Linked DNA regions of Homo sapiens. The protein of the gene in region 4 purifies or fractionates together with the protein of the main gene of each other region. This does not show direct contact. Each region holds a gene or a part of one and is shown on either strand. Other genes may lie near its edges. The genes, in order: UBR3, BTBD1, CCNYL1 and CIRSR.

Region 1 (9,112 bases), 4.3 Mb from region 4:
GAACTGGCTTATATTTTTAAAACAAATTGGACTAGCAAATCTAAAAGGTCATGTCTTTAACTTTAAAATTTCTTGGGCCTATGCTACCAGCTCAGCTAGTTAAAGGGTTTGTATTGAAGATAAGTAGAGTGGGAACAGCAGTGAGTGGCTGTGTATGCCATGGTTGGAGTCTCAGAATTCTAGAACTACAGTTTTTTAAAATTGAATAATGTGATGAAAGTAGTATTTTGGGGAGTAATTCTGGTGTCTTTTTAGTGGATAAATTAAAGTAAGGATAAAGGGAAGCCAGAAAATATTTAGGTGGTGAAAAAAATCTAGACTATTTTTCTGATTGTAAAACTTGGAAAGTAACTAATGTAAGAGACATTTGAGAAAAATATAGGACTTGGTGACCAGATGTACATGACTTTAAGATCTTGAACTCCAATCATTAGGAGAGTAGTGTCTAGTATATACAGCTACAGTAGGAACATGCGGCTGCTTAAACACCATTGCTGATGCCCCATTGCCTATGGAAGAAGGTATGGACTCCTTGCATGGCACTCAAGGATCTTCACCATCTTGCTTGCCTTTCCATCTCATCGTATAGCCTCCCTCTGCCATTACCTTGCTCAAATCACAAAAGAATGTTTCATAAGTATGCTATACATTTTTAAACTTCTAGAACATTACTTATTGCTGTTACTAAAGCAACCTTCCTACCCTTCTGTTGAATTAATAATCACTGTTTGCTAAGTAACATTTACCTTTGCTAAGATAAATGTGACTTCCTCCATGAAGATTTGTCTGATAGTCCATCTTCCTTACATCCTAATCCCTTTTTTTTCTGTTGTTCTATAAGGCTGTACTTTTGTGACTTTCTCTAACAGTTGCCATGTTCATTACATTTGTTTCTTTAATGTATCTGAATGGGGGCTCCACGAAGCAGAAATTGTTCCTTATTTATCCCCGGTTTCTAGAAAGTGCCTCATATATACTAGTCACCTAATAAATATTTGTAGAACAATTAAGTTGTGGGGTGGTGTCTTTGGCAGAAATAGAACGTATTAAAGGGGAGCCAAGTTTCAGGGAAAGTGAGAATTTTAATTTTGAACATCAAAGGGACAATAAAAAATTAATATTTCAGATGAATGTGTCAGACTAGGTTTCATTTTTAAAACATTGGAGTGAATAATAAAAGATAAGCATAAGTTATAAATGTCTCTGCTTTTGTTCTTTTCCATTTTTTGCTGAAATCCTTAAAAAGATGCTATCTCATTTTATACCCTTTTTTTAAAAAAAAAGGGAAATTCAAGTTAATTGAATCTTGCATATTACATATACAAATATCTTCCTGTCTAGTAATTTCTTTATTCACAGAGCATATAGCAATAATTTGACATCATACTTTGATGTCTGAAAACCTATGCAGGATGACATGGAGTAAGAGGGGTATAATTGTAGAACCAAGGCAGGGAAAAAAGTGATGAGCACACCCAGAGTTTGTCTTCATATGAGCCATAGGTTAAAATCAAGCCTACATTTTAGATGAATGATTATTGTATGTATGCTGATGGAAAATAAGAATTTTTCATTTTAAAATATTTAATCTTTTCATATAATTAGGTGATAATTATTGTAGAGGCAGTGTAGTAGACATTTGATTAATTTATTAATTTATGCTAATGCAGAATTTTTGCCAGTTATGTAAGTACACCACCATTTGACCTGTATTCCCCCTTGTGTCCCTGCTCCACTCTTGTGTTCCTAACCCTGATCCTGACCCTAGGTCAACCAGATTCTCTTTCTCAGGAATGTTAAATCTGTATAGCGAGACTTAGCAGGGTAAATGGTGACAGGAGCTGTATAGTCCAACAGTACTACCCTTGAAAAACTGTCTGTGAATTACTACTTCTGAATTTTTTTATCAGTTAAGATTCTTTGTTTGGGAACAACAAAATCCAGTTCTGATTTAAAATAAGGAAAACCAAAGCAAACTATGACAGAAAAAAAAAAAAAAACAGGATTCATTGGAAGCATACTTGGTAACCTGCAGAATTGAAGAGCTTAACTGTCATCGCTTGGGAAGAAGAGAAACCACAAATATCTCTGCTCTGTTTTCTCTGAAGTGCTGCCACCAGATAACTAAGCCTCAACCATTTTCCTTCCTTTAATTTGCATGCTCAAGGTTCAGATTCCTGGGAGAGAGAATCTGGTTGGCCTAACTGTTGTAATACATATACCCCAGTGGTGGGGCAGGATCTTGTGTTGGGGACAGCCCCATCAGAACTGTACGGAGCAAGAAAAGGGGTTATTTTCTAAAAGAACTTATAATGTTATTAATATAAGAAAGCAGCAAAGGATGCTAGGAGGATTTAAAAAACAAACTAGTGGCCCACTACTTTCACATCTTACCTGCCTGGCTCATACACACCCTTCTTCTCATTCACAGTTTCACTTCTGCTGTTGAAAATGATGTAACCATTTTACTTATGACTGCAAATGCATCTGTGACTTTCCCAAATAAGCAACCTGATGTCACATATAGTCCTTACATCATCAGGCCTCTCTGCATCCAGTAGCTCTGAGAGATGTCCATTGTTCCTGTCATTTGTACTCACACCCAGATGGCCTGGAAAATTTTAATTAGTACCTGCTCACCCTGAATTCAATAGTAAGAGAATGAAAATGTTGCAAAGATATATGATACAGTAAGCAAGATTTGCAAGTAGTCATAAAGCTGCAGCTAATATACAGTCAAATATATATGACTTTCTTCTTTTACCATCCGTGATCCAGCACACCTCAACGGATGATTGGATTTGTTTGAGCAAGGATGTGATACCAAACTTTATTCTGAAAGGGCTGAGCTTCTGGTGATTGGTCCTGTCTTTGTTTCTATAAGGCTGTAATCATTCTGTGTTAAATTTCTGCCTTTCAAGCTTGGTCTATGGTAGGGGTGGTGGTAGGGGTTTTTAAGTTCCAAAATATTGCTCTACCAATTGTATGGCAATATTTTTATTCTTCTTGATAGTCATGGTCAATCCCTCCAGGCAATGCGATAAGCCACCCTTGTGATGTTATAAACCGTACTAGAGGTTAGACAGTACATAGCTTGTAAATCCGCAGAAGAGTCCGGAATAGCAGTGAAGCAGAAATTTAAGACCGAATTTTTTTTTCCATTTTAATGTTTACAATTTAATAAATCTCTTGATTGCAGACATGTAAGGCTGTTTGGTAGTATTCAGAAACATCACAGTAATGGCAGTTTTTTCAGTTGGTGTGTAGTCTTCAATAAATATCTATGAAAGTGCTGTCAGACCAGTAAGACTGCATTTATACATCCATCATTTTCAGGATTGTTGGTAACCACAGCCTATTTTCCCCAAATAACCTTGCCTCCTTGTGTCACAAGGCCCAACTCACATTCACCTCAGTAACAGTACCTTTGGTAATAACATCCAAAGTTATATACATTGGGAATGAGGGACTCTTCTTTACACCAAGTATTGTTAGGCAAAAGGTGGCTTTCAGTTCAGGATGTGTTACATGGGCTTTCTTGAAACGCAAGCCCATTGGCCTGATGAATCTTCCATAGATAAGTAGTTTTCTTGTAAAGCCATCTCCAACAAAGCAGACTTTAGTAACCATCCTCCTCTATGCCTGCGTCTTTCTCTTTCCTGTTGGAATAACTTTGAGACAGAGTCTCACTCTGTTGCCCAGGCTTGAGTGCAGTAGAGCGATCTTGGCTTACTGCAACCTCAGCCTCCTGGGTTCAAGTGATTTTCCTGCCTCAGCCTCCTGAGTAGCTGGGATTACAGGCGCCTGCCACTATGCCCAGCTAATTTTTGTATTTTTAGTAAAGACAGGGTTTCACCATGTTGCCCAGGCTGGTCTTGAACTCCTGACCTCAAATGATCTGCCTACCTTGGCCTCCCAAAGTTCTGGGATTACAGGCATGAGCCACTGCACCTGGCTCTGTTCAAATAACTCTTAACACTTCTGTATCTCCCTGGGCAAGTTACATTTAGACAGAGGGACTTTCCATTTTCCTGCTTTCTCTTTTCATTTCGGCTTAATCATACTGGGAAGTACGTTAGCTTGAGGTTGTCCCTCTCTGTCCAGCAGATAGGCAGGTACTGCTCCCTGTGGAGTCTTTCTTTTGTCTGGTGTTTCTCTTTTCATGCATCTTGATGGTCTTTTTCATTTGTATTTTCTCAGCATGGTGCTGTTTAAGATAAAGCTTAGCCTTCAGACCAATCATTTTCTTTGACTTCTTTGAATGTTCATAAGCCTCTCAACTTTCCTTCTTTCCCTTTTTCTCATGGTAATCCAAATGATATCCATGGCATTTACAGTGTAATTCAATATATTTGATCTGTGGCATGGCACAGGCGCAGCCCCTGGGGTGCGAAAATGCTCTCAATTTTTGGGTCTCAGAGACCCACGAGTGAACTCCACACAGGCCGCAACAGGAAAGGCAAGACCGAATTTTAGGTGTAATCATGAGAGGTGTTACAGCTGTTAAATACTTTCCACCTCTTGTTTCCCATACATATGCATTCCAATTGTGAAAAAGGTCACCCATATATACTGGTTGCTGTTTAGAGCATACACATTCTGTAGGTGATTTCTTCCAGCTGGTGCCATCTAAAAGTTTGTAAATTTCATGAATTTCATAATTTTTGTGGCACTGAAAAAATCAGTTTTGTAGTTCATGATTTAAAATACCACAGCTTTTTTCAGATGATTGAATATATGTTAAGATCAGTGAATTCCATGGACATCCACCTGTTGCCTTACATCTCTCTTCATGAGGGAAATTATTGGAGGTAATGTGCTATGGGCTACTGGATAACATGCAGCCTAACCTATAATAAGTGTCAAGTTCAGTGAGGACAAATTGTTATCCCTTCCCTTTAATGGAAGGGTTCCACTGTAATCAACTCATTACAGAATGCCATCCTTGGAGTCCAGGGTTGGGTGCTGAGTATTGGCAAATGATGTATTGTATACTGTTCTTATCATTGCTTCCATGGACACTTAATCCATGAACTTGTTGATGAGGAACAAGCTAGCTTAGTTACTCCACTGATTTAGGTGGATTATGGCTGCATGTAGGTAATGTGAGATGATCTCCATTTAAATTGACTATTACTTACAGTTTCTTAAGATAATAGACTCACTCTACATTTTATCTTTTTTAAGTGTGAATGGAGTAGCATCTAGAAAAATTTAGTGCTGCTGCCAGTATTTTTATACAGCTGCAAATAGTTAATAAAGCATACCCTTCAGGGAAATTTAACTAATTTGACAATTTTTTTATTCTTATAGCAAGACATTTATGAAAAGAATTGTAGCCCAGCACTTATGGATATAAAAGATCTTAACAGCTTGAGGTGCAATGAATTGTACATACTCTAGGAAAGCAATTCTACATTATAAAGTATTAAAGTAGAAAAAATGAGTTATAACCATGATCTGTCCTAAAGAAAAAGCTAAAGAATTGTTTGAGAATGATCAAAACTTGGTTTTAAAAAATACGTAACTTTTAAAAACCTTTGCACTATGCATGTTTAAAGTCAAATACAATTAGATGTATTTTCCCTGCATGCTTAGAGATGGTGTTTTTCTTTTAAAGTAATAACAAGTTTAAATGTTTTAAGGTGCTTAATCTAAAAAATTAAATCATACTGTAATTGGAAACTATAATACATTAGATAATGGTAACTGTTGAACTACTATTTTAGTCATGTATAAGATGGAAATGAGAGGAGTGTTAATAAAGAAAATAAGCCACATTCTTGGAGGCAGATTTTTCTTTCTGTAAAAATACATTTAAAAAATATATTGTGTTAGTGACTTAAATACATAAAACTAATGAATATTTTTGGATAATGTTTTAGGCCTTGCTTATCCAAGAGTCAAAATGGAAATTACCACACCTACTACAGTTGCCTGAGAATTATAACACCATTTTTCAGTACTACCACAGAAAAACCTGTAGTGTCTGCACCAAGGTTCCTAAAGATCCTGCTGTTTGCCTTGTGTGTGGTACTTTTGTATGCCTGAAAGGACTTTGCTGCAAGCAACAAAGTTACTGTGAATGTGTACTGGTAAGCAATAGTAGATAATACAAAATTTATGAAAACACAGATCTCATATCACAAAATATGGTCAAGCCATCTCTTCATATTAACTACTCTTTGAATTAAGTATATAATACATATAGGGATTGTGTGTGTTTTTTAATCCAGTAGAAGAGTAAAAAAAGAAAGTCTTTGAGGCTTTAAGTGAGTAAATCCTTCCTTAAGTACAATTCTAGTTCTCCTTTCATCTACTATCCCTTTAATGGTATGTACTTTGGAATGTGCTGTGAAACAGAAGTCATCTGTGCTGTTGAAGATACTAGACTCTGAATTAGGTTGGCTCTTAATTGCTTTACTAGATATTCCTTACCCAAATACCTCCTAATGTATTAATAATAAAGTGTTAGGAATGGAGTTATAAGTTTAACTTAAATGAAATCTTACTATTTTTAAATCACTGTATTATTTAGAAGGCATTAATATATTCTTGATTTTATTATAAAGCCTATTTGATTATGAAGTTCATTAATATATTTTTAATTTTTTAGCACTCTCAGAACTGTGGTGCAGGAACAGGTATTTTCCTTTTGATCAATGCATCGGTAATTATCATCATTCGAGGTCACCGCTTCTGCCTCTGGGGTTCCGTGTATTTGGATGCTCATGGAGAGGAAGACCGGGATCTTAGGTTAGATGTTCATGGATATATCCAGGTGTTTTATTGAAATTTGGTCAGTGAAAACCAATATGCTATTCCTGGCTTTGTAATTACAATTTTTTTAATATTAAGAAATTCTGACAGTCATTAATTTAGAGCTATTTCTAGTTTTTGAGCTATTGTCCCTATCAATACGTTGAGGAAACATGAAATACACCAAATTACCATGTGAGGTTTTTGCCACAAAGAATCCGTTGGCCAGGCCCAGTGGCTCACACCTGTAATCTCAGCACTTTGGGAGGCTGAAGCAGGATTGCTTGAGCCCAGGAGTTTGAGACCAGCCTGGACAACATAGTGAGACCTCATCTCTACAAAAAAATAAAAATAAATAAGCCAGGTGTGGTGGTCATACACCTGTGGTCCCAGCAACTCGGGAGGAGGTGGAAGGATCGCTTGAGCCCAGCAGGTGGCGGCTGCAGTGAGCTGTGATCGTGCCACTGCACACCAACCTGGGCAACAGAGAAAGACTGTCTCAAAAAAGAATCTAGTAAAAAAAGAAATGTGGTAGGTGTGGTGGCTCACGCCTGTAATCCCAGCACTTTGGGAGGCCGAGGTGGGTGGATCACTTGAGGTCAGGAGTTCGAGACCAGGCTGGCCAATATGGTGAAACCCCGTCTCTACTAAAAATACAAAAAATTAGCCGGGTGTGGTGGCGGGCCCCTATAGTCCCAGCTACTCTAGAGGCTGAGGCAGGAGAATGGCATGAACTCGGGAGGCGGAGCTTGCAGTGAGCCAAGATCGTGCCACTGCACTCCAGCCTGGGTGACAGAGTGGGACTCCGTCTCAAAAAAGAAATAAGTAAATAAAAAATAAAAAAATAAAAAAAGGAGGCAGGCATGGTGGTGAGCACCTGTAATCCCAGCTACTCGAGAGGCTGAGACAGGAGAATTGCTTGAACCCAGGAGGCGGAGGTTGCACTGCGAGAGACTGTCTCAGAAAAAAAAGAAGAAAGAAATGCATGTGAAATCTTCCGTGTATGATATTAATACTTTTTTTTTCTTTTTGTTCTAGGCGAGGCAAACCTCTCTACATTTGTAAGGAAAGATACAAAGTTCTTGAGCAACAGTGGATTTCTCATACTTTTGATCACATCAATAAAAGATGGGGTCCACATTACAATGGGCTGTGACTCTCCACCTCAGCATTGCATCGTATCATCATTTTCGCTACGAATTTATTTTTCAACAATAAGCTTTAACTTAATTTGGGGGATTAACACTTTTGCTGAGGGAGAAAAAGAAAACATACATTATGAAGCCTTTCCAAAATTAGGTGCTTGGTAATCACGTTAATGGTATAATTTTTTTTTTTTAATATCTGGAGAACATTAATAACAAGTTAAATTATTCTTTAGTGGTCATTTTTTAAGTGCACAATTAATAAGAAGCACAACTTGTTCACAAACTCATTCAGAAATGATTCTCCCAACAATGCGTATCAGCTATTCATTGATACTTAGAGTGGGTGTGATTTATTTGACATTTTACTGCTTCTTTCTGTCTGTGTGTTTTAATTTGCATCTGCCAAGCATAATGCATCTTTTTTCCTCTGCCATTCTTGTGTTGATTGGAGAATTTTTCTGTATGTAATTAGAAAAAAATGTAAAACATGATTTATGTGAAATACTGTATAGTAAAAGTTGGTCTAATAGTAGAACTTTAAAATTTTTTCTTATTGTGAGGAATCTGTTAAAAGTTTAAAGCTTTGCTGAAAACTGAATTCATTCTCAGGAATTTCATAAATCTTCTCCCCAGGTAAATAATTGAAATAGCTGTAAAATAAGTAGATAGCTGCTGTTAATATAATACAGTACATTTTGGGGGGCATATGTGTGGTTGGGGGGTCCTTAAAAATCAAAATTTGCCATTTCAGTTGGATGAATTACTAGAGGTAATAACAAATCTTACTATGAAATCAAGAGGTTTAAGAACATACACTGGGCAGATGTTGATTCCGTGCATGCCCACCTTTTATTACCAAACAAGGTTTTGTTTATATGATTGTATTAGAAATGCTCAGACTTCCCCAGAAATGAACCATAAATTTTGGAACTTCCTTTCAGCTCAAGAGGTTCAGCTATATTGTATTTGTGCAGTGTAATCACTACTATTTCTGCTCGGTTTCCTAAAAGGAAAAAAAAGGCGCAGTGGTGATGACCCTCATGAATGAGCCACGCTTCTGCATTCTTCTTAGAAACTGCTGTGAAAAACAATTTATGTTTGCAGGGTTTAAAAATCAGTAAAAATGGGAATGATTGAGCTAAAACCCACTCTATGAGAAGGAAGATTACTGAAAAGCATGTGACATATTGCTACAAAGATTTTTT
Region 2 (9,112 bases), on a different chromosome or scaffold from region 4:
TACTTGTTCCAATTTTCTCCAAGATTGTTTTTGTTTTTGCTGATAAGAATCAGTGTTTGGGTTTTTTTTAAATAAACTTTTGAAATTAAAGTTTAACATCCATATAGTAAAATTAACAAATAAAGTGAACATACTTATTTAACCAATTTATCCTACTGTACTAGTACCCCAGAAGCCTTTGTCATGACCCTCTAAGTCACTAATCTCCCTCTGAAAGGTGACTACTTTCTGTCTTCTATAAATTAGTTGTGTCCATATGTAAACTTTATATAAAGGAAATCATATATATGGTGTGTATTCATTTTTGTGTGGCTTCTTTCTCTTAACATTACGCCTGTTAGATTCATCCATGTGGTTGAGTGTGGCAGTAGTTCATTCTTTTTCATTGCTTTATAATATTCTGTTATACAACTGTGCCATGATTTATCCATTTTACTGTTGTTGGATATATGGATTATTTCTGTTTGGGGACCATTGAGGCCATTCTTGTACGTGTGATTTGGTATACATACGTAAACATTTCTGTTGGATATATACGAGTGGAATTGCTAAGTCATGGAGTGTGCATATGGTCGGCTTTAGTAGATCCTGCCATCCTGCCAAACAGTCCCTTAAAGTGGTTGTAACAGTTTACACTCATCAACAAAGTGAAGAGACATAAGAGTTTGTTTTGGTTGCCCACATCCTCTCCAATACTTGGTATTGTCAGTTTTTGTAGTTCTAGCCATTTGTGTGGATGTGAGGACGTATTTCATTTTGGTTTTAAATTTCATATCACGGATGATTAATGATGTTGAATATGCCAATAATTTTTTAATCCAGTCTGACAGACTTTGTCTTTTATCTGAACTGTTTTGGTTCACTTGCACTTAATGTAATTACAGATATATTTGGGTTTATGTTTACCATCTTGCAATTTGTTTTCTACTTGTCACATCTTTTTTTTTTTTTTCCTTTCTTGCTTTCTTTTAGAGGAATCAAGCTATTATTCTTTTTTTTTTTTTTTTTTGGTAATGATACAGTTTTCCCCCTTATTCTGTGAATATAGTGAACTACATTAATTGATTTCCCAATTTAAACCTATTTTGGATTCCTTACGTAAATCAGACTTGGTTGTTATGCATTATCCTTTTTATATATTACTGGATTTAATTTGCTGAATTTTTAATGTATTTTTATGACTACTGAATGAGAGAAATTAGTCTATATATATTTTTTTTTCTTGCAATGAAATTGTCAAAATTGTCCTCATACAAAAGTTAGAAATATTTCCTTTTTTTCCCCCAGTGTTCAAGAGTTTGTATTATTAATTTTCTCCTGGAACCAACTTCTAGCTTTATTAATTTTCTCTATTACAGTATGTTTTCCATTTCATTACTTTCTGCCTTTTTCTTTATTACTTTCTTTCCTTTCTTTGCTTTTAATTTGCTGGGGTTATTTATTTTATTAGTCTTTGTGACTTTTTGAGATACTTAGAAGGTCAACCTATATTCTTTTTGAATGCATATATTTAAGTGTATATTTTTTCTCTCAGCATCCTTCCCCCCCACAGTTTTTAATATGTGTATTTTCATTAGCATTCGATTAAGAATTTTTAATTTTTGCTTTTTTTTTCTTTGACTCATAAATTATAGATAACTTAATTTCCAAATATTTGAGATTTCTTCTTATCTTGCTCTTGCTGATTTCTGTCTTAATTCCAGTATAGTCAGAAAATATATTCTATATCATTTCAATGCTTTGAAATTTGTTGATATCTGCTTTGGCCCAGCATATGGTAGTTTTATTTATTTTTTATTATTTTGTTTTATTTATTTTTGAGACAATGTCTCACTCTGTCACCCAGGCTGGAGTGCAGTGGCATGATCTTGGCTCACTGTAACCTCCGCCTCCTGGGGTCCAACGATTCTCCTGCCTCAGCCTCCCCGGTAGCTGGGATTACAGGCATGCGGTGCCACGCTCGGCTAATTTTTATATTTTTAGTAGAGACAGGGTTTCACCATGTTGGCCAGACTGGTCTCAAACTCCTGACCTCAGGTGATCCACCCATCATGGCCTCCCAAAATGCTAGGATTACAGGCATGAGCCACCGTGCCTGGCCCATACGGTAGTTGTAATAAGTATCCATGTATACTTGAGAAGAATGTATTCTTCTTTGTTATGTGCAGAAAAACCTGAATAGTCCTGTATCTGTTCAACAGATTGAATACTATATCTATGAAAGGAATATATACTAATGATCTTCAAATTTTCTATGTATCTATCTATTGATTTGCTTTTTGTTCTATCAGTTACTAAAAGAAGTAGATTTAAATCTCAGGGTATGATTGAGAATGTGTTTCCTTTTGGTTCCATCAGTTTTCTTCTTTATTTTCTTCTTTATTTTAGGTACCTTCAAATTTAGGATTTTTTTTTATATTGAATTTGCTTCTTTATCTTTACAGTCTATCTCATCTTAAATCTAAACTTATTGTGGGTTTTTGTTTTTTATTTTATTTTTTGAGACAGTCTCCCTCTGTCACCCAGGCCGGAGTTCAGTGGCACAATCTTGGCTCACTGCAACGTCCACCTTCTGGGTTCAGGCAATTCTCATGCCTCAGCCTCCTTAGTAGCTGGGACTACATGTGTGCACCACCACACCCTGCTAAATTTTGTATTTTTAGTAGAGATGGGGTTTTGCCATGTTGGCCAGGCTAGTCTCGAACTCCTGGCCTCAAATGATCAGCTTGCCTCAGTCACCCAACATTCTGGCATGAGCCACCACGCCTGGCCTAAACTTCTTGTTTTAAAGTCTTTGTCTGATATTGGTATAGTTTCTCAAGGTTTTTTAAATTCTATATCTTTCTCATCCTTTTACTTTTAGCCTTACATTATTTTGACCATGTCTCTTGTAAGCTTCATTTTTAAAAAATTCAGTCTGACAGACTTTGCCTTTTATTTGGAATATTTGGTTCACTTTATATTTAATATGATTAATAGTCTATTAAACTTTCTTTTTCTTTTTCTTTTTTTTTTTTTTTTTGGTGTAGACAGTGTCTCCTCTGTCACCCAGGCTGGAATGCAGTGGCATGATCTCAGCTTACTCCAGCGTCAACCTCCTGGGCTCAGGTTATCCTCCCACCTCAGCCTCCCGTATTAAAGATTCTTTTATTATTATTTTAGTGGGTTGCCCTTGTTATTACAAGAATATATCCTTATTGATTTTTAAATTAAATCTTAAAAATTAAATTTTTTAGATGGGGCACAGTGGCTCATGCCTTTAGTCCCAGCACTTTGGGAGGCTGAGGCAGGTAGATTGTTTGAGTCGAGTTCAAGACCAGCCTCGGCAAAATGGCGAAACCCTGTCTTTACAAAAAAAAATTTAAAAATTAGCCTGGAGTGGTGGTACACACCTGTAGTCCCAGCTACCTGGGGGGCTGAGGTGGGGATCACTTGAGCCCAGGAGTTCAAGGCTGCAGTTAGCCGTGATCACACCACTGCACTCCATACCTGGGCAACAGTGAGACCCTGTCTCTAAATAAATAAATAAAATTAAAATTTTTAAATTAAAATTTTCTACACAATATAAAGGCATTATTGATACTTTTGCTATATTTAACCTTCTCTAGCCTTTGGTGCTACTATTTCATGTATTTTAATGTTTCATATGTTATAAAGCCCACAAAACATTATTTTTAAAGTCAATAATCCTTTTGATTTGCCTATATATTTGCCCTTTCAGTTATCTTCATTTTTTTCTGTATGACCAGATGTGTGCTTCTATCTGGGCACATTTCTGTTAGCTTGAAGAATTCTCTTCAATATTTCTTTTAAAACAGGTAGGATACTAACCAGATTCTCTCAACTCTTTTTTTCTTTTGTCTAAAAACATCTTTATCTTACCATTTTTTTTAAAAAAAGAGATGGGGCCCTGCTGTGTTTCCCTGGCTGGAGTGCAGTGGCTATTCACAGCTTCAAAATTCTGGCCTCAAACAATCCTCCCACCCCAGCCTCCTGAGTAGCTGGGACTAGAGGGGCACACTGCTGAGCCCAGCTTGCCTTCATTTTTGAAGGATATTTTTCTGGGTAGAAAGCTCAAGGTTGACAGTTATTCCCATCTATCATTTGAATGCAATTCTATTCTGTTTTTTTTTTTTTTTTTTTGAGACAGAGTAAGACTGTCACCCAGCCTGGAGTGCAGTGGCACAATTTCATCTCAGTGCAACCTCCACCTTCCAGGTTCAAGTGATTCTCCTGCCTCAGCCTCCTTAGTAGCTAGGATCACAGGCACCCACCACCGCCCTTGGCTAAATTTTGTGTTTTTAGTAGAGATGGGGTTTCACCATGTTGGGGAATGGTACCAAACATGTAGGCTTTTATCGCTCACCTCCCTCCTACCATTCCCCCCAAGTCCCCAAAGTTCATTATATCATTCTTAGGCCTTTGCCTCCTCATAGTTTCTTAGCTCCCACTTATAAGTAAGACCATATGGTATTTGGTTTTCCATTCCTGAGTTACTTCACTTAGAATAATGGCCTCCAAGTTCATCCAAGTTGCTGCAAAAGCCTTTGTTTCGTTCCATTTTATGGCTGAGTAGTATTCCATGGTGTATGTATACCACATTTTCTTCATCCAGTTGTTGGTTGATGGGCATTTAGGTTGGCTCCATATTTTTGCAGTTGGTAGTGCTGCTATAAACATGTACGTGCAAGTATCTTTTTCATGTAATGACTTATTTTCCTTTGGGTAGGTATCCAGTGGTGGAATTGCTGGATCAAATGGTAGTTCTAATTTTAGTTCTTTTTTTTTTTTGGAGACAGAGTCTCGCTGTGTTGCCCAGGCTGGAGTGCAGTAGTGCGATCTCGGCTCACTGTAACTTCTGCCTCGCAGGTTCCAGTGATTCTCCTGCCTCAGCCTCCCGAGTAGCTGGGACTACAGGCGCACATCACTGCACCCAACTAATTTTTGTATTTTTGTTAGAGATGGGGTTTCACCATGTTGGTCAGGCTGGTTTCAAACTCCTGACCTTGGGATCTGCCTGCCTCGGCCTCCCAAAGTGCTGGGATTACAGGCATGAGCCACCACCCCCAGTCCTTTTTAGTTCTTTAAGGAATCTCCATACTGTTTTCCTTAGTGGTTGTACTAGTTTACATTCCCACCAGCAGTGTAAAAGAGTTCCCTTTTCACCATATTCACGCCAACATCTATTTTTCTTTTTTTATTTTTTAATTATGGCCATTCTTGCAGGAGTAAGGTGGTACCTTATTGTGGTTTTAATTTGCCTATGTATGATAATCAGTGATGAGCATTTTTTCTTATGTGTATTGGCCGCTTGTATATCTTCTTTTTTTTTTTAATTATACTTTAAGTTCTAGGGTACATGTGCACAACGTGCAGGTTTGTTACATACGTATACGTGTGCCATGTTAGTATGCTACACCCATTAACTTGTCATTTACATTAGGTATATCTCCTAATGCTATCCCTTCCCCCTCCCGCTGCCCCACAGCAGGCCCCGGTATGTGATGTTCCCCTTCCTGTGTCCAAGTGTTCTCACTGTTCAGTTCGCACCTATGAGTGAGAACATGCGGTGTTTGGTATTTTGTCCTTGTGATAGTTTACTGAGAATGATGGTCTCCACCTCCATCCATGTCCCTATAAAGGACACGAACTCATCATTTTTTATGGCTGCATAGTATTCCATGGTGTATATGTACCACATTTTCTTAATCCAGTCTATCATTGATGGACATTTGGGTTGGTTCCAAGTCTGCTGGGCGAAGGATATGAACAGACACTTCTCAAAAGAAGACATTTATGCAGCCAACAGACACATGAAAAAGTGCTCATCATCACTGGCCATCAGCAAAATGCAAATCAAAACCACAATGAGATACCGTCTCACACCAGTTAGAATGGTGATCATTAAAAAGTCAGAAAACAACAGATGCTGGAGAGGATGTGGAGAAATAGGAACACTTTTACACTGTTGGTGGGGCTGTAAACTAGTTCAACCATTGTGGAAGATAGTGTGGCGATTCCTCAAGGATCTAGAACTAGAAATACCATTTGACCCAGCCGTCCCATTACTGAGTATATACCCAAAGGATTATAAATCATGCTGCTATAAAGACACATGCACACGTATGTATAGCTTCCTTTGAGAATTGTCTCTTCATGTCCTTTGCCCACTTTGTGCTGGGATTATTTGTTTTTTTTTTCTTGCTGATTTGAGTTGTAGATTCTGGATATTAGTCCTTTGTTGGATGCATAGTTTGCAAATATTTTCTCCCACTCTGTGGGTTGTCTGTTTGCTCTGCTGATTATTTATTTTGCTATGCAGAAGCTTTTTAGTTTAATTAGGTCTCATTCATTTGTTTTTGTTTTTGTTGCATTTGCTTTTGGGTTCTTAGTCATGAATTCTTTACCTAAGCCAATGTCTTGAAGAGTTTTTTTGATGCTATCTTCTAGAATTTTTATGGTTTCTTAGATTTAAGTCTTTGATCCATCTTGAGTTGATTTTTGTATAAGGTGAGAAAGGAGGATTCCTGGCATCCATGAGGAATAGCATTTATTCCTGGATCTAAGTTTTGACTAATTAATGCTTTTAACATTTTAATTAATGTGTTTAACCTCAAATGGATTTATTGAAACCTTAAAATATATGCAAAAATTATATATGCTAAGATTTTTTTCCCCTATTTTTATGTTACGTCCTCTAGATTTGAATTTACGTTAAGTGAATTCCAAAGTTAGGAATTGAAATCAAATTCCTTTTTTTAGGCTTATGTTTTTATTTCCACAGGTCCTGCTCAATCTGGAATTTTGTCAGATCGTGAAGTGGTAAACCTCTTTCTTCATTTTACTGTCAACCCTAAACCCCGAGTTGAATACATTGACCGACCAAGATGCTGTCTCAGGGGAAAGGAATGCTGCATCAATAGATTCCAGCAAGTAGAAAGCCGCTGGGGTTACAGTGGGACGAGTGATCGAATCAGGTATCTGTTATATTGGGGATGCGGGGGTAGAGTGGGGGTAGCAGTTACCATTTGGCCTTTTTTATATATTATGGGAGATAATTAACCAACATTTCATTTTATACTTCATTTAATACACTTTTAAGTTAAGTTAATATAGGAGTCAAGAAGTCACTGAGGCATCCTGCCCTCCTCACTGATTTATGAGTGAGGGTGACTTCTTAAGAAAAAAATAGAGTAAGAAAGGATTGGGTTGGACCTTCTGTTACGTGATTTTTTTGTTTTTCCCCAAGATGGAGTCGCTCTGTCACTCAGGCTGGAGTGCAGTGGTGGGATCTCTCACACTGCAACCTCCGCCTTCTGGGTTCAAGCGATCCTCCCACCTCAGCCTCCTGAGTAACCTGTAAGGCATGCATCACCACGCCCAGCTAATCTTTTTGGATTTTTAGTAGAGACGGGGTTTCACCATGTTGTCCAGGCTGGTCTCGAACTACTGACCTCAAGTGATCCACCTGCTTCAGCCTTCCAAAGTGCTGGGGTTACAGGGGTGAGCCACCACGCCCAGCTGTTACATGATTTTTGTTTGGATCACCACTGCCAGTGGGCTGAGTTCTAGACCTTAATTGATCAAACGTTATTTTTACAGGCTTAGGGCTACAATTAATAAATGTAACCTTACTATGTTTAGTGTGAGTTTTTTCTTTGCATAGATGTTGCAGGGAAAGTATCTCAGTATACATTTATAAAAGCCTTGAGAAAAAAATCAAGAATCTTGAAAAATGCATGCGTATAATCCTGTTGAAGAAATTGTCTTTGCTGTACTGTGTTTCTTTAGGTTGAATGTCAAAATAGAATCAGTGCCGGTTTTCACAAAACATGACTTTTGGATTTTCATTTATTTAATAGCACTTCAGTATAAAACTGGAAATTAACAAGTTTGTTAAAACAGAAAAATCTGGTTGGATGTGGGACTATTATAAATCTTAAGTTAACATGGAAATTAAAAATGTACTTGTAGACTATTTAATAATAATTCACAATAACTATATGCAAAAATTATGGGATGAGGCCAAAGCTGCACACAAAGAAAAAGTAATAATTAACTACTTGTAGTAAATAGAGTAGAAATAAATGATTTAAGCATTCAGCCCAAGTAGCTAGAAAACAAATAGCAAAAGAACTATAAGAAAAGAGAAAGTAAATAGATAAATGTAGAAATTAATGAATTAGAAATAGTAGAATTCATAAATCCATAAGCTGGTTCCTTTAAAAGACCAATAAAATAAATAAACCTCTGGCAAAGGTAATAAACATTCACATTTAGAAGCAAAAATGGGAATATAATTATATGCTGACATTTTTATTTTAATTCTGGGTTTATTCTGTGCTAATAAATTGAACATGTTGATGGAATGGATCATTTTATAGGCAAATATAAATTATCAAAATTGACTGAAGAAGAAAAGCCTGAATAGACCAATTACCATGGAAGGAATTAAAAGTTATCAAAGAACTGTCCCTTCACAAGGTGGTTTTTACAGGTGAGTTTTGTCAAATCCTCAAGGAACAGTTAGTTTCCTTGAGCATTAAAAGAATAAAGTACTACTTGGTTAATTATTGAAGGAAGCATAACCCTTATATAGGCATCAGACTAGACAAAAAAAATTCTAGATCAATCTCAATATAAAGAAGAAATTTTGTGTAAAACATTAGGATATTGAATCTGTACCTTCGAAGAATAACACTGTATGACCAAACAGAGTTTATTTGGAGATTGAAAGAATGGCTCAGTGTTAGGAAATGTATTAGTATAATTCTCACAACAGATCAAAGAAGAAAAACAATTTAATTTCAATAGATGTCAGAAAGGCTTTTGATAAAATTTCACCTTCCTTCCAGATATAATTCTTACTAGATTAGGCCTAGAAGAATACTTGTTTGACATGATAAACTATTGAAACCTCAAGATAGAGATATCCTTGCTGTTTAAAGCAGTGTTATTATAATTCTGATTGATTATTTGCTAATGGCATTATGTACATTAGTAGTTCACAACTCTATCAAACCCAGTTCTCTCTTTTTTTAATAAATATTTTGTAATTCCCACTTTACTAACCTGAAATAAAATTCATAGATAATATGCTTTATACATTTTT
Region 3 (9,112 bases), about 33 Mb from region 4:
GCTGGAGTGCTGTGGTGCAATCTTGGCTCACTGCAACCTCCACCTCCCGGGTTCAAGTGATTCTCCTGCCTCAGCCTCCCAACTAGCTGGGACTACAGGCACGCATCACCATGCCCGGCTAATTTTTGTATTTTTAGTAGGGACTGGGTTTCACCATGCTGGCCAGGCTGGTCTCAAACTCCTGACCTTGTGATCTGCCCCCCTCGGCCTCCCAAAGTTCTGGGATTACAGGCGTGAGCCACCACACCCAGCCTCTACCTAAAGCTTCTAAAAGGATTCATGACTACTTCCTTTCAAAAAGAAAGCAAATATACTACCATTTGAATCTAAAAAATAACTAATGTTTACAGAAGAAGCCATATTATGAATCAGTACCTATGTCATGATAAAGTTTAATTAGGAATTTTCAATGAAGTCCAGGAAAATTAAGTACCAAAATCAAAGAGGAGCAGGCTTCACACACACACCTCCCCCGCCCCAAATCAAGATGTGCTACTATGTATTTAAATATAAGAAAACCAAGATGTGCTACTGTGTAAATATAAGAAATATCCAAGGCGGCTGGGCATGGTGGCTCATGCCTGTAATCCCAATACTTTGGGAGGCTGAGGCTGGCAGATCATGAGGTCAGGAGTTCGAGACCAGCCTGACCAACCCAGTGAAACCCCATCTCTACTAAAAATACAAAAAAATCAGCCAGGCGTGATGGCGTGCACCTCTAGTCCCAGCTACTCGGGAGGCTGAAGCAGAAGAATCGCTTGAACCCAGGAGGCAGAGGTTGCAGTGAACCAAGATCACACCACTGCCCCCCAGCCTGGTCAACAGAGCAAGACTACATCTCAAAAAAAAAAAAAAAAATCCAAGGCAACTAGGATAACAGAAATGATAAGATATAGAGAAAAAAGCCAAATAAGCCCAAGTAACAAGCTGGCACTCCCTCAACTCAGGGGTTTTAGGGTGGGCATGTGACTTACAGCTGGCCAATCAATTACATTTCTCTTGGGACTTCCCAAGAACCAAAGGAGAAAGGCAGGGCTGTACTCTAGCACTGCTAGCCAGCCAGGAGCTGCCACCGAGGCTGAGGCAGGAGAATTGCTTGAGCTCAGGAGGCAGAGGTTGCAGTGAGCCGAGATGGCGCCACTGCACTCCAGCCTGGCAACAGAGCAAGACTCTGTCTCAAAACAAAAAAAAAAAAAACAAAAAACTCCTAAGAATGTTTGAAACTAGAAGAAATAGTTTTTGATATCATGGTTAGGGGTTATGTATAAAATTGTATTTTAAGACCCACCAGTTTTGTATTATCAATTTAAATTGCAACTTAATTCGAAAGCATGATAGTATGATGGGGGGCAAGTAAGACAAAAAAAAATTAAACTCAGGTCTTAATATAAACACCCCCCTCAGGGGAAGAAATCTGTAAGATCCACTGACATTGAACACTGCTTCTCCTTGAATCTATCAGCCATCTCAATTTCACAGATGTTAATTAAAAATGTAAAAATATGGAACTTAGAATAAATGAAATGCATTATTACTAAAGGCTAAAAGTGTTAAAATTATGCAATTGTAAACTGTAAAGAAATTATTTTTCTTGTCAAAATATTAAAGGGAGAGGGCAGCAACCAAGAAAGTAACTGACAGAAGCAGCATATTTCAGAGAAAGAGATTGAGTTCAACATATTGATTTCAATATATCCCAATTAAACAGGAGACATTGGCAGTTTCTGGGCCAACTGCTGGGCATCTGTTTATTTAAAGGCTTACTGCATTTACTGACCTGCTCTACCATACTGCACACTGTATTAGTCTTACGGTCCATAACACAAACATTTCAAACCTCTCAACTATGATGTAAACGCTGAGATTTTATCTAAGTTCACACGTTCCACCCATCAGGTAAGTCTTACCTGATGGGTCTTGAGCTGCCCTGCCTCATCTGAGGTCACACAGTACCAGCCAAGCTCCAGTCTCATGCTCACTCATGCCTTGCTTTTGCTTTCCTAGCTTCTGACAATCCTAAATCTGGTTTCCGAAACACTGCTCTACCTCCTTCTATGTCAGTGTTCAGTCTTGCTTTAACTTACCTTCACGCCTCAATCTATGTTTTAGTGATCGTGACTGAGCTGTGACATTTCATATGCTATAGTATACCTTTCTCCCTTTGTGTATTTCTTAATAGCACTTAACTCCTTTTTTAGACTTTTAAGAGTATTTCTGGGTGGAGTGCAGTGACTCACACCTGTAATCCCAGCACTCTGGGAGGCTGAGGCAGAAGGATCACTTGAGAACAGTTCAAGACCAGCCTGGGCAACATAACATAGTGAGACCCCCATCTCTACAAAAATTTTTTAAAAGATTAGTTGGGTGTGGAGGCACATGCCTGTAGTTCCAGCTATTTGGGAGGCTGAAGTGGCAGGATAACTTGAGCCCAGGGATTTGAGGTTACAGTGAGCTCTAATGGCACTACTGTGCTCCAGCCTGGGCGACAGGCAGAGTTGTGACCCTGTCTCATACAGAGAAAAGAAAAAAAAAAAAAAAGTCTGGGTTACAAGTACCTCCATTTCATTTTTCATTATCCAATGTTATTATTTTAACTCTAAAGCTTAATTAACTGAAAAAAAGGTGGAAAAAAGGCAGTATCCAAAGAAGCCCATGAGTCATTCTATAAATTCTAATCCTATATGCCATATATCTGAAATTTACATTCTTGATCTACCAAGCCTTTTTTTTTTTTTTTTTTTTTTGAGACGGAGTCTCACTCTACCACCCAGGCTGGAGTGCAGTGGCATGATCTCGGCTCACTGCAACCTCTGCCTCCTGAGTTGAAGCGATTTTTCTGCTTCAGCCTCCCAGGCAGCTGGGACTACAGGCATGTGCCACCACACCCAACTAATTTTTGTATTTTTATTAGAGATGGGGTTTCACCATGTTGGCCAGGATGGTCTCCATCTCCTGACCTCGTGATCCACCCACCTCAGCCTCCCAAAGTGCTGTAGTACAGGCATGAGCCACCACCACACCTGACCATACCAAGTCTTATCTTTTTAAACCTTGGAAAACTCTTAGTCCCAGCTACTTGGGAGGCTGAGGCAAGAGGATCACTTGAGCCCAGGAAGTGGAGGCTGCAGTGAGCTATGATCACACCACTGCACTCCAGCCTCGGCAACAGAGAAAGACCATCTCAAAAACAAAAAACAAATTAAAAAACCTTGGCAAACTCAATTTACACCTCTCAAAGCCTGTCTTCTCATATGTAAAACAAGTATAATTCTTATACTACCTAACTCAAAATATAGTGAGAATAAAATGAAATGCAAGAGCAATTGCTATAAGCCGGGCGCAGTAGCTCACACCTGTAATCCCAGCATTTTGGGAGGCTGAGGTGGGCAGATCACCTGAGGTCAGGAATTCAAGACCAGCCTGGCCAAGATGGCGAAACCCCTTCTCTACTAAAAATATAAAAATTAGCTGGGCGTGGTGGCACATGCCTGTAGTCCCAGCTACTCAGGAGGCTGAGGCATTAGAACTGCTGGAACCCAGGAGGTGGAGGTTGCAGTGAGCTGAGCTCGTGCCACTGTACTCCAGCCTGGGCAACAGAACTAGACTCCATCTCAAAAAAAAAAAAAAAAGCAATTGCTATATACCACATAATGCACAATAAATTATAAAACAAAGTTTTCACAAATTAAAAGCAAAAGTGAACAGTTAGCATTTATTGGAAAGCCCATACCAAAATAACATCTTCAGCAAATATGCACTTTGGCTACCTCTGAAATTAAGGGAAAAACAGTCACACACCACCACCAAGAATTCCTTTCAGTGTTGTTGTTTTAAATAAGCAAATACATATTATTTCATACATTACTGTACATTCTCCTCCTTGTTTTTTTTCATGTAACATATCCTGGATATCTGGGTATCACTCCATAGCAGTAAAGAGAGTTTTTTTTTTTTTTAACAGCTCCATAATTCTCCTCTGTGTGGATATAACAGTTTATTTTACCAATTTCTTACTAGACATATTATTTCCAATATTTAGCTATTGAAAATAATGCAACAAAACCTTATGCACATGTTATTTCATATTTATGGGGTATGCCTTCAGGATAAATTCCTTGAAGTAGGATTTCTGGATTAAATGCATTTGCAATGTTTGAGATTATGCCAAATTCCTCTTCAGGGAGTCAAACCACCTTACATTTTAACCAGCAATACACGAATGCAACTCTTCGCAGCCACACCAAAGAATGTATTGTCAAGTTTTTGGATCTTCTCCCAACAGAAGAGAAATCACAGCACAGTTTTCGTTTGTATTTCTCTTAAGTGTGAAGCTGTGTTTAAGGATCATCTGCATTTATTTTTCTGTGACTTGTCTATTCATCACTTTGCTACCTACTTTTACAGCTAGTCTGATCTTTTTTTTTTTTTGAGACAGTCTCACTGTCACCCAGGCTGGAGGGCAGTGGAGCAATCACAGCTCAATGCAGCCTTGACTTCCTGGGCTCAGGAGATTCTCCTGCCTCAGCTTCTTGAGTAGCTGGGACTATGGGTGTGTGCCACCACACCTGGCTAATTTACTTTTTGTAGAGGCAGGGTCTCAGCACGTTGTCCAGGCTAGTCCCAGCCCACTCCTGGGCTCAAGCAATCCTCCTGCCTCTGCTTCCCAAACTGCTGGGATTATAGGCATGAGCCACCGTCTGATCTTTTTCTTAAACAATTAAAAATATTGGCCGGGCATGGTGGCTCACACCTGTAATCCCAGCACCTTGGGAGGCCAGGGTGGGTGGATCACGAGGTTGGGAGATCGAGACCATCCTGGCTAACACGGAGAAACCCCATCTCTATTAAAAATACAAAAAATGAGCCGGGTGTGGTGGCACGTGCTTGTAGCCCCAGCTACTCGGGAGGCTGAGGCAGGAGAATCGCTTGAACCCAGGAGGCGGAGGTTGCAGTGAGCCAAGATTGAGCCACTGTACTTCAACCTGGGCGACACAGTGAAGATTCCATCTCAAAAAAAAAAAAAAAGAATTAAAAATATTTCCCAGGCTATAATCCTCCAATGGTTTCCTATCACAACTAAAGTCTATATTCTTTGCCAAGGCCCACTATACACACATGGCCTTAACCCACCATAGTCCTGGCATCCTTTTCACTCTTCCGCAGCCACCCTGTGTCTTTCTGTCCTTGGCCAAAAACAAGTTTGCTCCCATTCAAGGAACTCCAAAGTAACTGTCTGTGTGGACCCCTGGCTCTCACCAACCATCCTCACAAGGCTCCCTTCTCACTTTAGGACTGCTCACAGGTCACGTAAGGAGAGCAGCCATCTTTCATCCCCACAACCCCCATGTAACTGTCCTCCTCCCCAATCCATGACCCTATTTTACTTTTCTCCCTAGCACCTCACCACCTAACATTCTTGATTATTCATGTATTATCTATCCCTAGCTCCCTCCAGAATGTAAGGATCAGAGTTAGGATGAGGTTCTGTCTTGTATACCACTGTCTGCCCTAAATCTGGAACACAGCCTGGCCACCTAAAGGTACTCAATAAACATCTGTTTCAGCACACCCAAAACTAGTCAAGTTTCTCCCAGTTTTCCCACATCTTTTAATATTTCTTCTAACATTCTCTCTTGATTTGTCATCTAATCAAATCTTTTAAAGTGGTAAGCATCAAATCTTTTAAAGTGGTAGCTATTCAGAATTAAAGATGCAAGATAGGCTACCAAGAAACAAAAAATATTAAATGATGAATTCTAAAGTCCAGGGAAAAGTCAATGCTAACTCCAATTTGACATAAGAACTTTTTTTTTTTTTTTTTTTGAGATGGAGTCTCGCTCCGTCACCCAGGCTGGAGTGCAGTGGCGTGATCTCGGCTCACTGCAATCTCTGCCTCCTGGGTTCACACCATTCTCCTGCCTCAGCCTCCCGAGTAGCTGGGACTACAGGCGCCCGCCACCACGCCCGGCTAATTTTTTGTATTTTTCGTAGAGACGGGGTTTCACCGTGTTAGCCAGGATGGTCTCGATCTCCTGACCTCGTGATCCACCCGCCTCGGCCTCCCAAAGTGCTGGGATTACAGGCGTGAGCCACCACACCTGGCCCATAAGAACATTTAATACTAAAATATCTTAACTACAAAATGACTCAACCCATAGATTTAACTGAATTCTACAGGGAGGTACAAGGCATCAGTCATCAAAATATGTTTTTATCGGTACCCTTGAAATCAAATGTAATGAGACTGTGTATGATGTTACTAGAAAAGATGCCCAATCATAAAGGATAGGTAAATAAATGATACTCCAACCATCTGATGGTACATTAAGCAGTTACTAGAAGGCATGCGATAGAGCAGGGTGTCCTGGCATGGAAAGATATCTTGGAGCACTCTCTGGATGTCAAGCAGTGATTCAGGAATTTATGACATTATTTCACTGCTGTAAGTTATGAAGCAGCTCATATAGAATGATCTCATTTTTCTAAAATAAAATGTTATATTCATATGCATACCATAATCAATGACTTTTCTGTATTCTCTATGTCTTTTACATCAAACATATTATTCAAAAAAGCAAAAAAAAAAAAAAAAGAGAGGGCTTAAAATAGCTACTGGAAAGAGGAAAGATCTGTTGCTCAGAGGTTTTTCCACATTACATTGCCAATTCTTTCCCTACCTTCACCCATCAGTGGAAAAGAATAGAAAGAGTCACTTCAGAGAGCGCCTTTAGCCAGCAAATTAGCAAAGCTCCTAACGTCAGAACATAAAATGCTCCATGAAAAGTCAAGAGTACTAATAAAATCGGACAATAAGATCTTAGTATCTTATTTTGTGTTACTGATACTACCGTCAGTTATGTTAGACATACCGTTAAATAAAGGCAAGGTAGTAGAAAATACTTTGAGTCTATCTGAAATGTTTACTAGGTTCTTAGGAGCATCTCTTAGCTTGACGAGACCAGGCGTGGTGGCTCACACCTGTAATCCCAGCACTTTGGGAGGTTGAGACAGGTGGATCACCTGAGGTCAGGAGTTCCAGACCAGCCTGGCCAACATGGTGAAACCATCTCTACTAAAAACACAAAAAATTAGCTGGGCGTGGTGGCACACACCTGTAATCCCAGCTACTCAGGAGGCTGAAGCAGGAGAACTGCTTGAACTCTGGGCGCAGAGGTTACAGTGAGCCGAGATCGCGCCATTCCACTCCAGCCTGAGCAACAAGAGCGAAACTCCATCTCAAAAAAAAAAAAAAGGCCAGGCGCGGTGGCTCACACCTATGATCCCAGCACTTTGGGAGGCCAAGGCAGCTGGATCGCTTGAGGTCAGGAGTTCGAGACCAGCCTGGCCAACATACTGAAACCCTGTCTCTACTAAAAATACAAAAATTAGCTGGGCATGGTGGCATATGCCTGTAATCCCAACTACTTGGGAGGCTGAGGCAGGAGAATCACTTGAACACGGGAGGAAGAGGTTGCACTGAACCAAGTTTGTGCCATTGCACTCCAGCCTAGGCAAGAGTGAAGCTCTGTCAAAAAAAAAAAAAAAAAAAAAAGAAATAGCTTGAAGAACAAAGCCGAGCGTCATTTATGTATGATTTTTGTCTAAGTAACAAAAATAATTCTTCATTGTAGAAAAGCTAAATTTTTTGTTTGTTTGTTTGTTTTGAGACAGAGTCTTGCTCCACTGTCCAGGCTAGAGTGCAGTGGCACGATCTCAGCTCACTGCAACCTCTGCCTCCTGGGTTCAAGTGATTCTCCTGCCTTAGCCTCCTGAGTAGCTGGGATTACAGATGCCCGCCACCACACCCAGCTAATTTTTGTATTTTTAGTAGAGACGGGGTTTCACCATGTTGGCCAGGCTGCTCTCGAACTCCTGACCTCGTGATCCGCCCACCTCAGCCTCCCGAAGTGCTGGGATTACAGGCGTGAGCCACCATGCCCAGCCAAATGTTTTACATCTCAGTAAGAATTTCTGTTTCCAGGGAGACTGATATAAAATTGTCTGAAATAAAGATATTAAAAGCAAACTTTCAATGTGTCTATACTTTATATTTGGTGTTCTGGCCATGTTTCTATGGAAACTTATGAATAATAGGCAAATGCCGAAATGGAGATTTCTATTATCACTTTATTGAATGCCACAAAAATAAATTTTGAGACAAATTGAAATAAAAATGTAACTGTCATACTAACATACAATGGTAAATTCTGTGCTTACAAATTCTCTTTTTCCAACTTTTCTGATTTAGCACTCTTTATCATCATCCCATGCTTAATGCCTGGTACCTTACCTTCCCTCTTGCCAGCTTCTAATATTCCTCTGTCCAGTGCATTCTCAGCTTCAATTCACAGTTACCAGAACAAACTCTTTAAAATTTATCAACCTGTTTATTTGATGGGTATATTTAGGCCATTTTGTTACCTCTACTTTTATTCTTATCCACTGAAATGAATGTATAGACATAAGATGGAGCCAGGCAAGATGGCACACGCCCGTGGTCCCAGCTATTCAGGAGGCTGAGGTGGGAGGACTGCTTGAGCCCAGGCCAGGAGTTCGAGGCCAGCCTGGTCAACACAGTGAGACTCTTTCTCTTAAAAAAAAAAAAAAAAAAAAAAAAAAGAGATGTAAGTGTTGCCTCTGAATCGTGTAAAATAAACTTTGAAAGGAACTAATCAAGACCGAAGTAAGTTCTCAAAAACAGGACTATTTTATGGGTAAAATACATGATGCATTCTGGATTTTTAAAAGTTTTTTAAGAACTGAACTTGGTATATCTCACCTCCATGTCAGTCTGAGAACTGAGAACCTTAGTTCTGCTCAGTGGCTGTCTTACATAGTCATTCTACATACCTAACTCTTTATTTCTTCATTAGCAACACGGGGAATATAAACAGGCCTTATTTTGGAAGGGCTAAATTACATGTACATGAAAGTATGTATTTTCATGTACACTGGGTGGGAGCCTTATTTGGGGCTCTCACCCAACACCACCCACCCATCTACTAACTGGTGTGTAAAATCACTCAGAGGCTTACCTGACACCACTAAGAGAGCATTAAGTTTTCACAAGCACTTACATGCTTTGTGTATAAAGGTACAATCAATTAACTCA
Region 4 (5,303 bases):
CCCCACCCTGCGTCTTAAAAATCTAAATAATCAAGGGTTGTTTACCTCTTCACTTAAGTTTTTCTTAGAGGACACTTGTTTTGTGTGTGTGCACAGACAAGTCAAAGACATAATCAGATGATGTGGAGTGGTTTTACTTCTTTCAAATGTTACTCCTACAGAATTTATGAAATTGTGACTGCCAACTATCAAAACCATCTAATCAGTATTTGTTTTGTATTAAATAGCAGATGGTTAAAAAATATAGAACACTGATAAAAAAACTTGTGTCCAAGATGTGAAGTTATGTTTTTTGGAACTGCATGTTACTTGTGATTTGTACCAGTTCTTTCTGTAGTTTTCCTTTACCATATCCTTTGAAACACAAGGGAAAATTTGCAGCTAAATTTAAATATGCCTTATATACCTATACTGGTGAAATATCAAAACAGTTTGCATTGTTTCATTTGAAAATCTACCCCCTGCCCCCCGCCACGGACCACTGGTACGATCAACCAGGTATGAAGTAAAATCTTTAATAGTTGTATGCCAGTAATAGAAGGGCCAATTGTGGAAGGCAGAATAATAGTCCCTCATAGATGTACACATCCTAACCCCTGGAACCTGTGAATATGTTACATTACAAAGAAAAGGGGAATTAAAGTTGCAGATAGAATTAACATTGATATTAAAATTGGGAGATTATTGCATGATTCTTCAGGTGGGCCTGATGTAATCACAAGGTCCTTAAAATTGGAAGAGGGATGCAGAATGGCAAAGTGTCAGAATGATTAGATTTGAGAAGGACTTGACTCCTCTCTCTTAGCTTTGAAAACAGAGGAGGGGGGGCCAGGAGCCAAGAAATGCAGGCAGCATCTAGAAGCTGGAACAGGCAAGCAAACATATTTTCCCCTTGAGCCTCTAGAAGAAACACAATTCTATTGACATCTTGACTTTAGCCCATGTCAAACTTCTGACTTCTAGAACTGTTAATACAGCTGGACTGTTTTTTGTTTTGTTTTGTTTTGAGATGGAGTCTTGCTCTGTCACCCAGGCTGGAGTGCAGTGGCGTGATCTTGGCTCACTGCAACCTCCGCTCCTGGGTTCAAGCAATTCTCCCACCTCAGCCTCCTGAGTAGCTGGGACTACAGGTGCGCACCACCATGCCTGGCTTTTTTTTTTTTTTTTTTTTTTGAGACGGAGTCTCACTCTGTCGCCCATGCTGGAGTGCAGTGGCGTAATCTTGGCTCACTGCAACCTCCACCTCCCAGGTTCAAGCGTTTCTCCTGCCTCAGCCTCCCGAATAGCTAGAACTACACTGCATGCCACCATGCCCAGCTAATTTTTTGTATTTTTAGTAGACACGGGGTTTCACCATGTTGGCTAGGCTGGTCTCGAAACTCCTGACCTCAGGTGATCCGCCCGCCTGGGCCTCCCAAAGTGCTGTGATTACAGGCGTAAAGCCACCGTGCCTGGCCCCGTTGGACTGTTTTAAGTTTGAGGTAATTTGTATACCTGCACAGAAAACTAATATTATCCAAATGTAAACAGCTTATTCTATAGAACAAAACACCTAAAGGGGGCTTAAAAGTCTTAAAGATTTATTAATCCTTAATTTATACTAATGAATTTGAATAATTATTACAATTCACTTCAAGCAAATTCAAATCCTAGAATAACAAATTTGAATTGAAAAAAGTAAATTATACCCATTCAATGTACTGTCATTCTTTTAATGATGTTTCAGAACAAAGAAAATGTCACAGAGTTATATGCGGTTTTTATCTGGTATGGGGAACAAGAAACAGTTACCAACAGAAAATATTTCCACAGCCCCAAAATAGCTTACTTACAAATATTTGCAAAATTCATTCTTATAGTACTCATGTAGTTTTGTACTTGAATTGACAGTCTAGAGATGAAAAATTAAAATTGAGCTTTTTTATTAGAAAGACAACAGTACATAATTTACCCCTTGCTAAAGGTATTCAATAAAAAAGTGGAGATATTTTTATTCCCAGGTAATTGTCACATACAGTCTTTCTTCTCTACTTCTGCTTCATTCTCTTTGTGTCACTTTAGTATGTGTACCTCCTGGGTGCTCTCTGTACATTTTTTCTCCTCTATACAAGTCTGTGCCATGGCTTCTGCTGTCATTTCTTCTGCTTTGCTCTTCACCAGGATTTCGCTGTGCCCGTTTCCTTGTCTCCCTTTGCTTGTAACTACCAGGACTTCTGCTCCGGCTTCTCCGGCTCCTTTCCTCCCTGCCGTGGCTTCTGCTGCTCCCCTCCTTTCTTTCAGAGCCTCTCTTCTCTGGGCTATGTTTATGGGTTCTGGACTTTTTGTCAGAATCAGAATGGCTCCATTTGCTGTCCTCCCTAGAACTCTCGTGTTTTAAGAACCTGGGCTTTTCCTTGGCTTTTTCCCGGTTATGGTGACTGCTAGAAAGTTCTTCATGAAGCTTTCTCTTCTTAGACTTGTCCTTCTCTTCAGAATCACTGTTGTTATGCCCTGAACACTTGTTTTTCTTTCTTTTCTTCCTTTGTATTTTTTTTTCTTTATTGTTACTCTCACTCTCACTACTGCTTTCTGAAGTCTCAGTAGAGGAAGAGGAGGAGGAGGAGGAAGATGAGGAAGAAGAGGACTTATGTTTTTTGTGTTTACTTCTGCTCTTCTGAAACTTTTTCTTTTTTCTATCTTTTTTCTTTTTTTTCTTCTCCAGTCGATCTAATTTCCTGTAATTGGGAAATAAACAGTAACAGACTGTGTGAAAAACAGTTATTTCATCAACTGTAAGTTATGAACAAACAATATATTTTCTTAGAAGTTATTAAAAATAGTATCCATGGCAGAGCGCGCTGGCTCATACCTGTAATCCCAGCACTTTGGGAGGCCACGGCGGGCGGATCACAAGGTCAGGAGTTCGAGACCAGCCTGACCAACATGGTGAAACCCCATCTCTAGTAAAAATACAAAAATTAGCTGGGCATGGTGGCACCTGCCTGTAATCCCAGCTACTCAGGAGGCTGAGGCAGAAGAATCGCTTGAACCCGGGAGGCGGAGGTTGCAGTGAGTCAAAATCATGCCACTGCACTCCAGCTTGGGCAAAAGAGTGAGACTCTGTCTTAAAAAAAAAAAAAAAAAAAAAAAGAACTGGTATCCATATATGAACGCATTGTTTACTAAATGACAACTCATTTTCTTCCTTTAAAATTATTCAAAGCGTGAATACATTAAATTAAAAAATTAAATGCATCAAGCCAATTTTCTGACTATACTTCAATAGTAATGACTACTTTTTTGTTAAATTCTTACTGAGTTGAAATTATATAGCACTCTAAAGGGTCATCCTAAAGAAAGCCTGTGAAAGGTGTGTAACATCAGTTGGAACTACTAAAAAAGCAAATATATAGCTATAATCAGATGAAAAATTAATTTTATGTACTATTTTATAGTATATAAATATTAATCAACGTTATCAAAATTCAAGAGAATATTCTCCAGAAATTCTGAGTAAGAGTACACATTAAACTTCTGAAATATTGGTTTTATAAAATAATATAGTTAATACTTGTTTTCAACAATTGTTTAGTTTTATAAATAGGACAATCCTATTAAAACATTCTGAATTTCTAGAGTACTTCACATTCTTGGAGGAGTAACTTGTTTATATGGTATGTTTGAGTTACTCTGAAAATAAGTCTCTAGGTTCTGTCTAGCCATTCTCAAAACTCTACATACTGAAAGCATCATGAGCTCCCTCTATTGGACCCAGCAGACATTTCTTGGATTCTTTTAATTCAGAGGTAGTCTGTTTAACAAAATTCACGTTTACCTTAAATTTAAGCATTCTTTCTGCATTCTCATAAAATTTTACAAAACATTTTAAAAATGGCCAAAAATGTTTCCTAAGAACAAATTGTGTGCGAAGATACACACAAATCTATTTTGAAAAGTAAAAGCTATAAATAAGTCTAATTCTAAATTAAACATTCTGAAAAGTGCAATCGTTTTGTGGTACAATCTGAGTATACAATCTTACACTCATTTCCATGTTACTGAAAAGACAGACAAAATTGTATTAGCTATGGGTGAAGAATAATCAATAAATGTGATGCATGGTATAAGGACCTTCATGAGCTCTTAGGATCAGAGTTGAATACGATACTGAGATGAATACTAAGGAAAAAATAAATCTATTAAATATATACTTCTAAATTACCTGAGAAGTTTCTGTTTTTGTTTGGTTGTTAGTGACTTTAAAAATTCAACTTCTGGATCTTCTTCACCCTCACTTGCAACATACTCCTGAGTCAACAAAGATATCATTAAATTGCTAGATTTCAACACAAGGTAGTTAGTAGATAAAAAAGAAAACATTTATAAATAAGTTTTGTATCAGGGACACACTGTAGATGAATATGATATTTTGGATTGGGAAGTGGGAGAGAATTAAAAAATTTTTTTGTAGTCTCCCTGCCGAAGTGGATCATACAGCACTAAGAGGTTAACATGACTGCTTTGCCAGCATTAGGAAACTTTTCCAGGAAAAGGATGATAGACACACACAGATAAAATGTTTAGAGCATGACTTCCATTCTCTATCTCTTGAATGTTAACTCTTGCCAGTTTAAATACTTTATTTTTAATTTAATGAAATATAAAAAAGAAGATTATGAGTTTTACAGGAATGTCAAAATATCCACAATTTTAGCTTTTATTATAATTTCAACAGCACATTATCAAATATATAATAATATAGCCCTTCAAACTCAATCATTTTCTGGATCTATGTATAGTTTAATAAAATAAATAAGTTTAAAATATTTTCTACAATTTTTAGGAGTTTTTACATACTTCTAACCATTGGTTCTATTTAATGTCATATCAGGGGTAAGTTAGCAGGAAGGAAAAACCAACAACCTCATCACCAGTTCAGTTAGATATTTTATCCACATAAACTCAGAGGAGCAGTTTCATTTATTAAAATACAGGTTTATAAACAATTTCTCATTTAGATTAAAATAATAAAGCAAAATCAAAACACATTTTGGGCATTTTCTTTGCTCTATCTTACTTTCCTATGGATATATGCATATTGGAAAACATTAAGTAGCAATTCACAAGCAATCACATTTAGATTTATAGACATTTTCAGCTTACTGATAAAAAGATCATTACCTGTGATGGATCATTTGCGGTCAAGTTTCTCCCCAGTACATTTCGTTTCAGTGCAAACCCACTGTTTCTCATCTCCGCTATTAGCTCCGAGGGGTGCATCGATGGCCCTGTTCACAAAAATCACAGTTTGAATGTATCATTTA

The links.
Region 1: the proteins of CIRSR (region 4) and UBR3 purify together in Homo sapiens (affinity purification with mass spectrometry; 2 studies listed by BioGRID and IntAct, with this or other methods). This does not show direct contact.
Region 2: the proteins of CIRSR (region 4) and BTBD1 purify together in Homo sapiens (affinity purification with mass spectrometry; 2 studies listed by BioGRID and IntAct, with this or other methods). This does not show direct contact.
Region 3: the proteins of CIRSR (region 4) and CCNYL1 purify together in Homo sapiens (affinity purification with mass spectrometry; 2 studies listed by BioGRID and IntAct, with this or other methods). This does not show direct contact.

What each region holds. Positions count from the first base shown.
Region 1 is NC_000002.12:170,073,929-170,083,040, forward strand, and holds part of UBR3 (E3 ubiquitin-protein ligase UBR3), read left to right. Parts: intron 1-3,539; exon of another isoform or gene 3,540-3,675; intron 3,676-3,973; exon of another isoform or gene 3,974-4,459; intron 4,460-5,885; coding exon 5,886-6,095; intron 6,096-6,616; coding exon 6,617-6,756; intron 6,757-7,797; coding exon 7,798-7,915; 3' UTR 7,916-9,112. UniProt on the Homo sapiens protein: E3 ubiquitin-protein ligase which is a component of the N-end rule pathway. Does not bind to proteins bearing specific N-terminal residues that are destabilizing according to the N-end rule, leading to their ubiquitination and subsequent degradation.
Region 2 is NC_000015.10:83,028,001-83,037,112, reverse strand, and holds part of BTBD1 (BTB/POZ domain-containing protein 1), read left to right. Parts: intron 1-6,784; coding exon 6,785-6,977; intron 6,978-8,384; exon of another isoform or gene 8,385-8,497; intron 8,498-9,112.
Region 3 is NC_000002.12:207,713,820-207,722,931, reverse strand, and holds part of CCNYL1 (cyclin-Y-like protein 1), read right to left. Parts: intron 1-9,112. UniProt on the Homo sapiens protein: Key regulator of Wnt signaling implicated in various biological processes including male fertility, embryonic neurogenesis and cortex development. Activates the cyclin-dependent kinase CDK16, and promotes sperm maturation.
Region 4 is NC_000002.12:174,346,459-174,351,761, forward strand, and holds the end of CIRSR (corepressor interacting with RBPJ 1), read right to left. Parts: intron 5,268-5,303; coding exon 5,161-5,267; intron 4,288-5,160; coding exon 4,202-4,287; intron 2,715-4,201; coding exon 2,039-2,714; 3' UTR 1,564-2,038; downstream 1-1,563. UniProt on the Homo sapiens protein: May modulate splice site selection during alternative splicing of pre-mRNAs. Regulates transcription and acts as corepressor for RBPJ. Recruits RBPJ to the Sin3-histone deacetylase complex (HDAC). Required for RBPJ-mediated repression of transcription.